2 separate regions of the Homo sapiens genome follow, and region 1 is linked to region 2. A link means that fine-mapping ties the variant in region 2 to the expression of a gene that starts in the linked region. Tissue or cell type: ileum. Region 2 holds a variant in brackets; the other region holds the start of a gene. All regions are shown on one strand. Distances are between the middles of the regions.

Evidence for each region. PIP is the estimated chance that this variant, and not a neighbour inherited with it, causes the effect.
Region 1: it holds the start of SLC52A1, and the variant in region 2 is fine-mapped to the expression of SLC52A1 in ileum (GTEx, PIP 0.98).

What each region holds. Positions count from the first base shown.
Region 1 is chr17:5,033,775-5,036,456 of GRCh38, forward strand. It overlaps SLC52A1 (solute carrier family 52 member 1), which reads right to left and starts at 1,652. Exons shown (of 5, transcript NM_017986.4): 1 at 1,087-1,652; 2 at 703-939; 3 at 1-584. The coding sequence starts at 832. All of the region lies in intron 3 of LOC105371501 (a long non-coding RNA gene), which reads left to right.
Region 2 is chr17:5,413,652-5,416,333 of GRCh38, forward strand. NUP88 (nucleoporin 88) reads right to left here. Exons shown (of 17, transcript NM_002532.6): 3 at 358-483. Among named protein-coding and RNA genes, the nearest start is that of NUP88, 4.7 kb to the right of the region's middle. RefSeq lists an enhancer at 1-852. The variant C/CCT (reference allele first, on the strand shown) is at 1,151.

The DNA.
Region 1 (2,682 bases), 380 kb before region 2:
TGGGGATCCCAGTTGAAGTTCAGGCCCTGAGCCCCCTGTGGTTACAGAGGGTAGTGATGGCAACAGCAACAGGAGACCCCGGAAGGCGGCAGCTGAAGTGACCAGAAGGGCAGTCAGTGCCCAGAAGAAGGTGCTGGCAGGAAAACGCTCAGGGAAGTCGAGGGGAGGCCCAGAGGTGCCATTGGTGGGCGCTGGTGGGCACTCGAGGCGGCCCACACCTTGCACTAGGGCCAGCACACAGGGGAGTAGGGCACTGAGACCCTGACCCAGGAAGAAAGACCGTAAGAAAGGAGGTGGCAGGTGGCTCAGGAAGGGCAGGAAAGTGACATTAGAGGTACAACAGGCCATTGCCAACACCAAGGCCAGAGTTAGGAAGGCCACAGAGTGGAGCTGCCCTGCCACTGGGGCCACGTGGTGCCACAGAGGGGCCAGCAGGGCTGTGCCCACTACACTCAGCACCTGTACCACCTGGATGGGGACCTGCTCGCCCTTGCCCGGGGCCAGCTGCCTCCACAGGGTCACCACCAGCAGACCCAGGTTTCCCAGCGCCACAACCACAGAGAGGTATGAGGGGAGGCTCCAACCTGCAGGGAAGGAATGATGCCATGTCAGGAGCACAGTGGCTAAGGGACAAAGAGCTGCCACAGGCCACCTTTCTGGGCATACCTGCCCCACGCTTCCCTGTACCTCCCTCCCACTCACCCTCTGGAAGGTCTTTTACCACCACAGGCAGCTCCACCCAGATCCCGTTCACAGCAGCCCAGGAGCCCATGCCAAAAAGGGCCACCAGCAGGTGGGTCAGCACCAGACGGCCCAGCGTGGGTGCTGCCATTCAGCCCAAAGCTGGACCCTCCAGGACAGGGCAAAGGTCACAGGCAGGTCCTTCCCTAGGTAGGTCCAAAGATGCTTTGGTTCTTCTGGAAACTGAAGACCTTCTAGCTGGAGGGAAACAGACAGGCTGGCAGGTAATAGGCTGGTGGGACAGAACCGGAGTCAGAAGACAAGTCGGTCAGACTGCTAAGACCAGGGCAACTGGAGGGAGAGGTGGCCGGGGGCGGGCGGGGAAGGTGGGGAGCCAGGACTTACCACGGGGCACCGGCTGTGCGTTTGGGTACAGCGACCCAGCAGTGCCGGCAGGCAGACAGGCAGAAAGCTGGCCCGAGGTGCAGCTGCCCCAGAGGAGCAAAGAGGGAGCTGATTTTCCTACCCACAGAGGACCCGGGGTCCAAGTTGTCAAAACAGCTCAGCACTGGCCGGGTGCGGTGGCTCACACCTGTAATCCCAGCACTTTGGGAAGCTGAGGAAGGCAGATCGCCTGAGGTCAGGAGATTGAGACCATCCTGGCCAACATGGTGAAAACCCGTCTCTACTAAAAATACAAAAATTAGCTGGTCGTGGTGGTGGGTGCCAGTAATCCCAGCTACTCAGGAGGCTGAGGCAGGAGATTCACTTGAACCCGGAAGGTGGAGGTTGCAGTGAGCCAAGATCACACCACTGCATTCCAGCCTGGGCGACAGAACGAGATTCGGTCTCAAAAACAAAACAAAACAAAACAAAACAAAAAAACAGCTCGGCACCAACACGCTCACCCTCAAATGGACCCCGGGACAAGGGCACGTCTCTGGTGCCACTTGCAACCCTAGCGCTTTTGCGACACTCAGGACTTGCTGAGGCAGGTCGAGTTGGAGAGGGGAGTGGCTGGGGCGGGCTCTGCCCGGAGGGGCGTCTCCGTGCTGCCCTCCCGCCTGCCTCAGGGGGGCATCCCGGGAGCCGCCAGGTGCGCAGGGGTCCCCGCACCTCCGGATCCGGCAGTCCCCGGACCCAGCGGCTGGCGGTCTGCCTGAGAGGGAGCCCCCTCCGCCGGGGAGGCGGCCCAGCCCAGAGCCCACACAGCTGGGGTTTTGTTGTTTGTTGTTTTAATTAATTAATTAATTTTGAGACGGGGTCTCACTCTGTCACCCAGGCTAGAGCGCAGCGGTGCGCGATCGCGGCTCACTACAGCCTCAACCTCCCAAGCTCAAGGGATCCTCCCACTCAGCCTCTCCCCACCCCCCCACAAGTAGCTGGGACCACAGGCGAGCATCACCATGTCCAGCTAATTTTTTTTTTTTTTTTTTTTTTTTTTGGTAGAGACAAGGTCTCACTATGTTGCTCAGGCTGGCTTGGCACTCCTGGGCTCAAGCAATCTTCCTACCTCAGCCTCCCAAGTAGCTGGGACTACAGACGCACCACACCTAGCTACCGCCACGCTCAGCTGTTTTTACACTTTTTTTTTTTTTTTTTTTTTTTGAGACGGAGTTTTGCTCTTGTTGCCCAGGCTGGAGTGCAATGGCACGAGCCTCTGCCTCCCGGGTTCAAGCCATTCTCCTGCCTCAGCCTCCCGAGTAGCTGGAATTACAGGCGCCCACCACCATGCCCTGCTAATTTTTGTCTTTTTAGTGCACAGGGTCTCGCCATGTTAGCTAGGCTGGTCTTGAACTCCTGACCTCAGGTGATCCACCTGCCCCGGCCTCCCAAAGTGTTGGGGATTACAGGCGTGAGCCACCGTGCCTGGCCAGCTGTTTTTACACTTTTAAATGGTTGAAAAAAAATTAGCTGGACGTGGTGTGCACACCTGGCTAATTTTTGCTTTTTTTTTTTTTTTTTTTTTTTTTTGAGACGGAGTCTCGCTCTGTCGCCCAG
Region 2 (2,682 bases):
AACAGAAAAGGAGGTGGGACAATAATTCAAATCTCTAAATTTACACTTACATTCTCTTTCCTTTATGCTACATTATTACCAAAAGGGTGACAATGATGAAAGAGTTTTGGAAAGATTATTCTAAGGTGTCAGATTAGGAGAGGAGATACCTGGAGGCAGGAAGACTAGTTGAGAAGGAATAGTGGTAAGTTAGAGCAGTTAGGCAATTCTTATGATTGAGAATGGGTTACAACAGCCATCCAATAAAAGCACTGACTCATTCAATGACTCACTTCGTTCTATGTTGAGCTGTTAATTGGCAAACAGAAACAGAGCTTTCCCACTCGCAAGGCTTCAAGAGAGAGAAATAAAATTTACCTGATTACGTTGTCTGATGTTAACAGCACTACGTGGGGATCCAGGATTTCACTTGGATACCATGCAGCATGCTTTAGAGTCAGAGAGGTGGAACTGGTGAAAAATCTCTCCGCAACTGGAGTGGTACTAAAATAAAGATAATAATTTTCCAAAACATTTTGTACAACTTGGATGAAAATCTTCTAAAGGAACTTCTTTTTTTTGCAGATGGAGTTTCTCTCTTGTTGCCCAGGCTGGAGTGTAACGGCACAATCTCGGCTCACTGCAACCTCCGCCTCCCAGGTTCAAGTGATTCTCCTGCCTCAGTCTTTCAAGTAGCTGGGATTACAGGCACCTGCCACCTCGCCCAGCGAACTTTGTATTTTCAGTAGAGAGGGGGTTTCTCCATGTTGGTCAGGCTGGTCTCAAACTCCCGACCTCAGGTGATCTGCCCACCTCGGCCTCGCAAAGTGCTGGGATTACAGGCATGAGCCACCACGCCAGGCCCTGAAGAAATTTCTATTTTAACACTCTTTGATTCTCTTTCCTTCAGATTTATTTCCCTGAAATCATGCTGAGAGGACATTCAAGGCATCTATTCAATCAATATCAAAGAATTGAAATAAAAATATCTTCTAAATTATAGCACACTGGCTGGGCGCAATGGCTCACGCCTATCTTAGCACTTTGGGAGGCCAAGGCAGGTGGATCACCTGAGGTCAGGAGTTTGAGACCAGCCTGGCCAACATGGTAAAACCCCGTCTCCACTAAAAATACAAGAATTAGGCAAGTGTGGTGGCACATGCCTGTAACC[C/CCT]GTTACCCGTGAGGCTGAGGCAGAAGAATCGCTGGAACCCAGGAGGTGGAGGCTGCAGTGAGCTGAGCTTGTGCCACTGCACTCCAGCCCGGGCTGAGGAGGTTGCAGTGAGCTGAGATCACGCCACTGCACTCCAGCTTGGGCTACAGAGCCAGACTCTGTCTCAAAATAAATAAATAATTTATTTATTTTAATAATTTAAATTATTTATTTAAATTTTATTTGTTTATTTATTTGAGATGAAGTCTCACTCTGTGGCCCAAGCTGGAGTGCAGTGGCGTGATCTTTGCTCACTGCAACCTCCGCCTCCTGGATTTAATCAATACTTGTGCCTTAACCTCCTGAGTAGCTGGGACTACAGGCGTGTGCCACCACACCCCACTTATTTTTTGTATTTTAGTAGAAATGAGGTTTCACCATGTTGCCCAGGGTGGTCTCAAGCTCCTGAGCTCAGGTGATCCACCTGCCTCGGCCTCCCAAAGTGCTGGGATTACAGGTGTGAGCCATCGTGCCTGGCTCCAAATTATAGCATATTTCATACGTATATATACATTTTAGGATGGTTTGACTTAGGATTGATACATATTTATACAGTACAAGTGTTTTCAGATATAGTATCTCATTTGATCTTTTTACTAACCCTGTAAGGAAATTACAAGGGCAGATATTATCAATCCTATTTTTAAAATGAGGAAACAGATTTAGAAGGTAAACAGTTTAAGGGGACTCAACTTATAAGTTGCGGAGCTAAAAGCAGTTTCTACCTTATACAGATGATCCCCAACTTTACAATGGGTTTACCAGTACATAAGCCAACATAAACTGAGGAGCTCCTTACGACTTATGATGGGGTTACCCATCATAATGTTGAAAAATCCTACGTTGAACCATCCTAAATCGGGGATCCTCTGCTGTGTTGTCAGCAATAAATCCATTTTCAACTTACACTGGGTTTATCGGGACATAACCCAATCGTAAGTTGAAAAGCATCTGTACTCTTTTCAGTAGATCTTTCAGATTCACTTTTCTGGATTTGTTGAAAAAGAAATTATATAAAAATAGGCCAGGTGCGGTGGCTCACACCTATAACCCCGGCACTTTGGGAGGCTAAGGTGGGTGGATCACTTGAGGTCAGGAGTTCAAGACCAGCTTGGTCAACATGGTGAAACCCCGTCTCTACTAAAAATACAAAAATTAGCTGGGCATGGTAGCGCTTGCCTGTAATCCCAGTTACTCGGGAGGCTGAGGCAGAAGAATCGCTTGAATCCAGGAGGCGGAGCTTGCAGTGAGCCGAGATTGTGCCACTGCACTCCAGCCTGGGTGACAGAGCAAGACTCCATCTCAAAAAAAAAAAAAAAAAAAAAAGTATATATATATATACACACATACACACACACACACACACATAAAATACTTACACTTCTGGCAAACTTCTGGCTGACAGATAACTGGTTTTACAAAATCTTACTTCTACCTAATCGAAAGAATGGCCTAGCCTCAAATGAGACAGCAACGTGGTACTTCAGGCAGAA